Linked DNA regions of Homo sapiens. The protein of the gene in region 1 purifies or fractionates together with the protein of each later gene. This does not show direct contact. Each region holds a gene or a part of one and is shown on either strand. Other genes may lie near its edges.

Evidence for each region. Proteins that work in one complex are often made in the same cells at the same time.
Region 2: the proteins of SLC28A2 (region 1) and RBM26 purify together in Homo sapiens (affinity purification with mass spectrometry; one large-scale study listed by BioGRID and IntAct). This does not show direct contact.

What each region holds. Positions count from the first base shown.
Region 1 is NC_000015.10:45,265,333-45,269,343, forward strand, and holds part of SLC28A2 (sodium/nucleoside cotransporter 2), read left to right. Parts: intron 1-250; coding exon 251-331; intron 332-748; coding exon 749-829; intron 830-2,122; coding exon 2,123-2,248; intron 2,249-2,333; coding exon 2,334-2,464; intron 2,465-2,877; coding exon 2,878-3,046; intron 3,047-4,005; coding exon 4,006-4,011.
Region 2 is NC_000013.11:79,322,418-79,326,428, forward strand, and holds part of RBM26 (RNA-binding protein 26), read right to left. Parts: intron 46-4,011; coding exon 1-45. UniProt on the Homo sapiens protein: May be involved in the turnover of nuclear polyadenylated (pA+) RNA.

The DNA of each region.
Region 1 (4,011 bases):
GTGGTCATTGCCATCATAAAATTAGATGAAATGAGAATTGGGGGAAAAGGGTCAGAAAACAGCTTGTGGTTTAGTACTGGTGGGACAATGGGTTTAATACATTTTAAATGTATCCCTAAACTAGTTTGTGTAGGTACTGAATACCTACACTGTATGAGATACCCTTGGAATGCTAAGAGCTTAACTTAGAAGCCTAAAACACAGAGTATGCAATGTAACATCTCACCACCTGCTACCATTCTCATTACAGGCCTTACCAATCATCATTTTCTTTGGATGTGTGGTGTCCATTCTCTACTACCTGGGCCTTGTGCAATGGGTAGTTCAGAAGGTGAGTCGTTCTCTTACACCAGTCAGGAGACAGGCCTTCATCCTGTCATCAGTCAGCTTTGGAAAAATGCCCATAGCTAAGGTCTAGAGTGTTAGAAACAATGGGAAAAGGCAGGCCCTCTCAAGCATGCCTGATAGCAAACTGTCAGCCGAGGCCCTAGGTAGGCTGAGGGCAGAGCAGAGAGAAGATGAGCTGGACTGCCTTTGATACTGAGTTTTAATGTACTTGTTCTAAAGGCAACGAGTCCTGAGTTCTGGTCAAGGCTCTGTTTCTAAGTTGGTTTTTGGCCCTAGGCTTGCTGCTCTACTTCTCTAGGCCTCAGTTTCCTTATCAGTAAAGTGGAGGAGGAGGAGTTTTGCGAGATGTTCTCCAAGATTCCTGCTAACATTAATGGTTTAGGTTTCTGTATTCTTCTAGGTCGCCTGGTTTTTACAAATCACTATGGGCACCACTGCTACAGAGACCCTGGCTGTGGCAGGAAACATCTTTGTGGGTATGGTAAGCACCTTGAGGACTTTTGGTCTTCTTCCCTCTGAGGAACTGAGAATTTGGCACAAAACAAGAGTATGCTTTCCTTCTGAAAAGTCAAATAAATGAAGACTGTGGGGCAGCCAATCTTGGATGAGAGATAACTCAGCAGCTCAAAGAAGACTCTGCTCATTGCGTTCACCCTTTGCGCCTAATAATACTTCCCTGGTAATACTTAATCTGGAGGGATAGCCTTCACCACTTCTAATGAACACTTCCTACGTAGGAATGTAGGGAATGTCCTCGTCCAATTCATATCCCCTTTCGGAGGCTATGAAGGGTGTTTGATCCTCATTCTGGTTTCTCCCTGTGACTCCCTGCAGTACTTGGTTTCCAGGGTCTCTAAGGAGGAAATCACTTATCTTGCTCATCGCTAACGCCCAGGCTCTTCCCCATAATACTTGCTTGGTACATTCGTCTGTATGGAGTAGGTGCTCCATATGTGCTACTGACTGATCAGCTCAATGTTGGGGACAATGACTTGTCACATTCGCAGGGAGTTAGTACTGAGGTCTTTCTCTCCCAAGGCTCTAGGCTGCTTCTGAAATGTTCTCAGAGTACTTCTGGATACTTTACCATAGCACTCCACATTTTGCTGAAATTATCCATAATCAGCCTAGTTTCCTATGTGAGACTATAAGCTTCTAAGAGTAAGGACTTTGCCTTACCTATATCAATGTCCTTAGCATCTAGTGCAGTGCTAGGCACATAGTTGGTACTTGTTAAATAATAGATACCATTATCTTAGGTCAGTGCTGGATATGGCTTACATAGATGGCCCTTCATAATTTCATAACATTTTCACAAACATTATTTCTTTTGATCCATAAGCAGGGGGTTTGGATCATCTATTTGTATTTCATTTAATGAGTACTGTTTAAGCATCTAATATGTTCTCATTAAGTGCACTGCATTCCGTAAGTTCAGTAAGTGTGTGGCTTTAGACATTGAGAATATACAAACAAAATATACCATTTCTCTTCTATAACATTTTAACATGTCAATAGATGAAACAAGCATGTATAGAAACAGGTGAGAACTATGCCAGCCAGGACATGATTGGGTGCCAGAGGAAGTAAGGCAGAAGCTGGATGGGCCTGACAGCCGGGCTCCGTGCTCACTAAGTGAAGCTGTGGCTCACTTAACAGTGCTCACACTGGATGGATGTGTATCTAGTGGGTCCAGCCCCTGGGGCTGGGGTGGGCACACTGGCATGGGGAGTTACACCTTCTTGGAATCTGACTGTTTTCTCCGTGTTTGTAGACAGAGGCACCTCTGCTCATCCGTCCCTACCTTGGGGACATGACACTCTCTGAAATCCATGCGGTGATGACTGGAGGGTTTGCCACCATTTCTGGCACTGTGCTGGGAGCCTTCATAGCCTTTGGGGTAGGCATAGTCTGCTTGATCACTCCTGGGTGAACTCGAGTTGGGTTTGATAGAAACACTGATGCCTAAGTCTGGCGCCTCACAGGTTGATGCATCATCCCTGATTTCTGCCTCTGTGATGGCCGCCCCTTGTGCTCTCGCCTCATCAAAGCTAGCGTATCCGGAAGTGGAGGAGTCCAAGTTCAAGAGTGAGGAGGGGGTAAAGCTGCCCCGTGGGTGAGTCCAAGGAGGCATATACTTTGGGAGATGGTGAGCTGTAGTTAAGAGTGGCACTGTGGTGGCAGAGACTTCAAGTCTCCCTGAGGGGGAATAATGTGATTCCATATTCCTTCTTGCCTATCTCTGGTGCTTGCTAATCATGCTGGTTTTCTTCATTTAACCCTCCCACCTGGCACTAGCTTCTGCATGCCAGTACCCTCTGTCCTTGCCATCCATGCAATTACATGACAATTATATCTGATATTGCTTCAGAGTAATTTCCACTAATAGGGTCACTGAGGAACCCCTGTCACCTTCTACATTGGCCTTGCACCCTCCTCCTGCACGATAGGGACAGTGGGATTTCTCTTCTCTGAGGGGCTGAGACTGCTGTAGACACCCTACTCTTGCCCTCTGCCCAATAACCACAGGAAGGAGAGGAATGTCCTGGAAGCTGCCAGCAACGGAGCCGTAGATGCCATAGGCCTTGCTACTAATGTAGCAGCCAACCTGATTGCCTTTTTGGCTGTGTTGGCCTTCATCAATGCTGCCCTCTCCTGGCTGGGGGAATTGGTGGACATACAGGGGCTCACTTTCCAGGTAAAGGATTACATTTGTTGGGCTGTCCCTCTGGGATGTGGTTAGGTAGCCCTTCAAACATGCATGTCCAAATCAAAACCACAATGAGATACCATCTCACACCAGTTAGAATGGCAATCATTAAAAAGTCAGGAAACAACAGGTGCTGGAGAGGATGTGGAGAAATAGGAACACTTTTACACTGTTGGTAGGACTGTAAACTAGTTCAACTATTGTGGAAGTCAGTGTGGTGACTCCTCAGGGATCTAGAACTAGAAATACCATTTGACCCAGCCATCCCATTACTGGGTATATACCCAAAGGACTATAAATCATGCTGCTATAAAGACACATGCACACGTATGTTTATTGCGGCACTATTCACATTAGCAAAGACTTGGAACCAATCCAAATGTCCAACAATGATAGACTGGATTAAGAAAATGTGGCATATATACACCATGGAATACTATGCAGCCATAAAAAATGATGAGTTCACGTCCTTTGTAGGGACATGGATGAAATTGGAAATCATCATTCTCAGTAAACTATTGCAAGGACAAAAAACCAAACACCACATGTTCTCACTCATAGGTGGGAATTGAACAATGGGAACACATGGACACAGGAAAGGGAACATCACACTCTGGGGACTGTTGTGGGGTGGGGGGAGGGGGGAGGGATGGCATTAGGAGATATACCTAATGCTAAATGACGAGTTGATGGGTGCAGCACACCAGCATGCCACATGTATACATATGTAACTAACCTGCACATTGTGCACATGTACCCTAAGACTTAAAGTATAATAATAATAAAAAAAAAACAACCATGCATGTCCTTCTGACCCACAGTAAGCCAAGAGAGAGCATGAATAGAAGGGTGGAAGAGATTGGGCCAAGGCTCCAGAGAAGGTCCTTGGCACCTGACCTTTGTTATATTAGTCCTTCCTTTTCCTGTGATATCTCTCTTTCACTCAGGTCATC
Region 2 (4,011 bases), on another chromosome or scaffold:
CAGTTTTAGATCTTGCCCTTTGAAACGAGCTCCATGAACTGCAGCCTAAAATGATTAAAAATATTGGAATATAAGACATTAAAAATTTCTGAAGAAAAAAATAAATGTCATAGTGCCTAACATTAAAATTAAAATAGCTAAAGACAACTGAAGATGGCTATCTGCCCATTTGCTTTTTGATTATTTACTATTCAATTTACTATTATTATAATTTACACTTTACTTTTTATGGTTATTTACTCCTACAATCAGACTAGTAATTGCAAATTCCTTTAAAAAGAAAACAAGAATAATTTCTCATAATAAAATATAGCTATTTCACTACTGGCCAATATTTGACTAAAAGAAATATGTCTACATGTTTATAACACAATGACAACTGCTGTTTAAGATGACAATCCCAAGGTACTTCAAGATCCTAGTTTTAATGTCTGAATCAATGTCTAAATTAGGATCAATATGCTAAATATATTTTATTTCAATTACTGTTCATTTACAAATGGTATATAATTATTAATCTTTAATAATAATTTTGCATGTGTAAAGTATATTATTTTCAAATTACATCAAATGACCAACTACCATAAAATGTTTATTATAAAACTAAAACAAAATATAAGTGTCTCAATGAAAGGAAAAAAAACCCCTCTGAACTCTTCTATTGAAAAACAGTTTTTCCTACCAAACTTTTATAACTGAATATAAAACGTGAACTTAAAAAATAGTCATGTCTAAGTACTTGCTATATTAAGTGGCTGGTTTGGAAACTGCATTCAAATTAGAGTAACATGAACTAAGGTAAATCAGTGTTAGCAACATATTGCCAAATAACTTATACTCACACAAGATTTATAATACAATCTCAAAGTACAGCATAATGTGAAATGTAGAAACAATTACATATTCAATGATATTTGACATAAGTTGTGTGGTATTAAAATCCCCAGGTATAAATTTTAAACCTGCACATATAAATTTATGATAAATTTAAAAGATTTCATGCCTGTTCAAATGCTGCTCAGAGAATTTTTGTCACAATGTCATACAACTAGAATTTTTTTAAAAAGTACTTATATGTATTTTAGTTCCAGGACAATTTGCAATTTTTTGAAGCTATCACTGTTACATAAAAATGTATCATATTCTATAAGGAATTCCAACTGTTTAATGCAAAATACCTACTCATAAAACTCATCCTTACATTCAGCTAAAAAAAATTCACCTAAAAAGCAAAAGAGTTACTGACATTTTCAAAAATAAGTTACTGACAAAAATTTCTGATGATCTAACTTTACACATCTCTATATTCAGCACACAGCTCCTCAAATCTATAAGATGAGGCTACAACTTTCTAAAGTTTCAACTTTAATTACAAAATGATTTACAAACTTTTTATTAACATTGCTCCATTACAAACTTGAGAATTAGGCTGTGTAAATTTTTGAAAGAACTGAGTTTTTGCTTTGTAAAGATGTAAATTTACTCAGGAAAACTAAGAACTTCTGATGTTATAAGAAACATATTCCATAATTACTTTCATTTTGATAAAACTATTGTTTTATATTAGAAAAGTTCAAGAAACCAATATTTCAGGTAATTGCAACATAAAATCTTTAAAGTTTAAACAATTCCTTCTGTAACCCACCCATTTCACTTTTTACAAAGATTCAAAATTTCAGGCCACGTAATGTAAAAAAGCAGTCCATGATTATCCCTAGCCCTAAGAGATAACCACTATTCTGTGAGGAATTCGGAGTTAAATCCTACATATATTTTTCTACACACATACTGAAAGAACTTCTGTATATAAATATGTATGGTATGTATACGGAAACATACTAGTTTATAACTTCATGGTTAAATTATTAACCCAATTCTTTTCATAAATATCTCTCGATGTCCATACCAATAAATGTCACTTTTCTTGAATGGCCATATATATTATATATTTAGCATAATTAAAGCAATTTCTACAGATATGAACAATCTTGTGTATTTGTACATCTTGTGTGACTTTCTATTAGAAGTGAAATGTTTGACTTTTTTCACAATCTGGCCTGCTTGTATTTTTCTAATTGAATGAAGTTTGGTGATATTTTGGGCAAAATATTTTCCCCGATTGGATTTTGATTTTATGATGCACCTTTTATTGGAGAGAAAGGGGTTGTTGTTGTTCTTTTGTTTTTGTCATCAACAAGTTTTAAATTTTTCATGTACTGGAATTTACCAATATTTTCCTTTATGAATATCGTGCCATACCTTAAAAAGCCCTCTCAATATTAAGACTATTTTTTTTAAATCCCTAGGATTTTACTATTTAAAAAAAAGAATTTTGTAGCATGTATTAAATGTTTTATGTATTAAAAAAAGAAAAAAAATTCATCCAATTTAATTTATTTGGATATTTAAAAAAGACATAATGCTGTCTTTTTTCCAAATAGCTAGTCAATTGCCCCAACATCATTTACTGAATAACTTGTTTTATTCCTTGATTTAAAACAACTCCTTTGTGATCCATTAAAATCCTCATAAAGTCAGCCACCACAGAACAATGTTTTGGTCAACAATGACTATATACAAAAGTGGTCCCCTAAGATTTTAATAAACCTGAAAAATTCCTATTGCTTAGTGACCTTATAACTATCATAATACATTACTCACATGGTGATACTGGTGTAAACAAACCGATTGTGCTGCCAGTCCAGTCATATAAAAGTATGGCACGCACAATTATGTACAGCATAATACTTGAATATGGTGGCAAACGACTGTTACTAGTTTACATATTTACTATACTATACTCTTTATCATTATTTTAGAGTGTACTCTAATTTTTTTTAAGTTAATTATAAAACAGCCTCAGGCAGTTTCCTCAGGAGGTATTTCAGAAGAAGGAACTGTTATCGTAGGCCTCAGCCTATAATACACACATTGCCTATGACAGCTGTGTGTGTGTTACTGCCCCTCAAGACTTTCCAGTGGGACAAGACGTAAAGGTAGAAAACGGTGATACTGATGATTCTGACCATGTTTAGACATAGACTAATGTATGTGTTTGTGTCTTAGTTTTTAATTAAAAGTTTAAAAAGTAAAACATAAAAAAATGTTAAAAATAGACAAAAGCTTATTGAATAAGGATATAAAGAAAGTATTTTTGTACAGCTGTGCAACGTGTCTGTTTTATGCTAAGTGGCGTTACAAGAGTCAAAAAGTTTTTAAAAATTGTAAAGTTTAAAAGTAAAAGCTAGAGCAAACTAAGGTTAATTTATTATTAAAGAAAGATAAAATGTTCTTATAAACTTAGTATAGCCTAAGTGTACAGTGTTTATAAGGTCTAAAGTACGAGTTTATAAAATACGATGGTAATGTTCTAGGCCTTTACATTCACTCACTAACTCACCCAGAGCAATTTCCAGTCCTGCAAATGCCATTCATGGTAGGTACCCCATACAGGTATACCATGTTTTATCTTTTATACCCTATTTTTACTGTACCTTTTCTATGTTTAGATATGTTTGCCTACACAAATACTTACCATTGTGTTACAAGTGCCTCAGTATTCAGTATAGTTAACACAATGCCAGAGTTTCGTAGCCTAAGACCAACGGGCTATATACCATAGAGTGTAGGTGTGTAGTAGGTTATATCATTTATGTTTGTGTAAATACACTCTGTGATGTGTACACAACAATGAAATTGTCTAACAACACATTTTTCAGGTCATATCCCTCTTAAGTGGCACATGATTGTATAAACTTAGGTCTATTTCTGAACTGTATTGTACTACATTATCTGCTTTGTACTGCTTTTAAACAGTACGAATAATTAATGCAAATAACTTTTTAAAGTATGCTATGGCAGTGCTTCAAGAGTTATGCATGTACTTTAAAATTCCATTAAAATATATTTTTAAAAGTGAACTGTATAGCCATTTATAAAATGTTAAGGAACACCATGTTTAAATGTGCTCTACAGGATGCCTACTTGGGCTAGGACGTAGTGGTCAAAAAG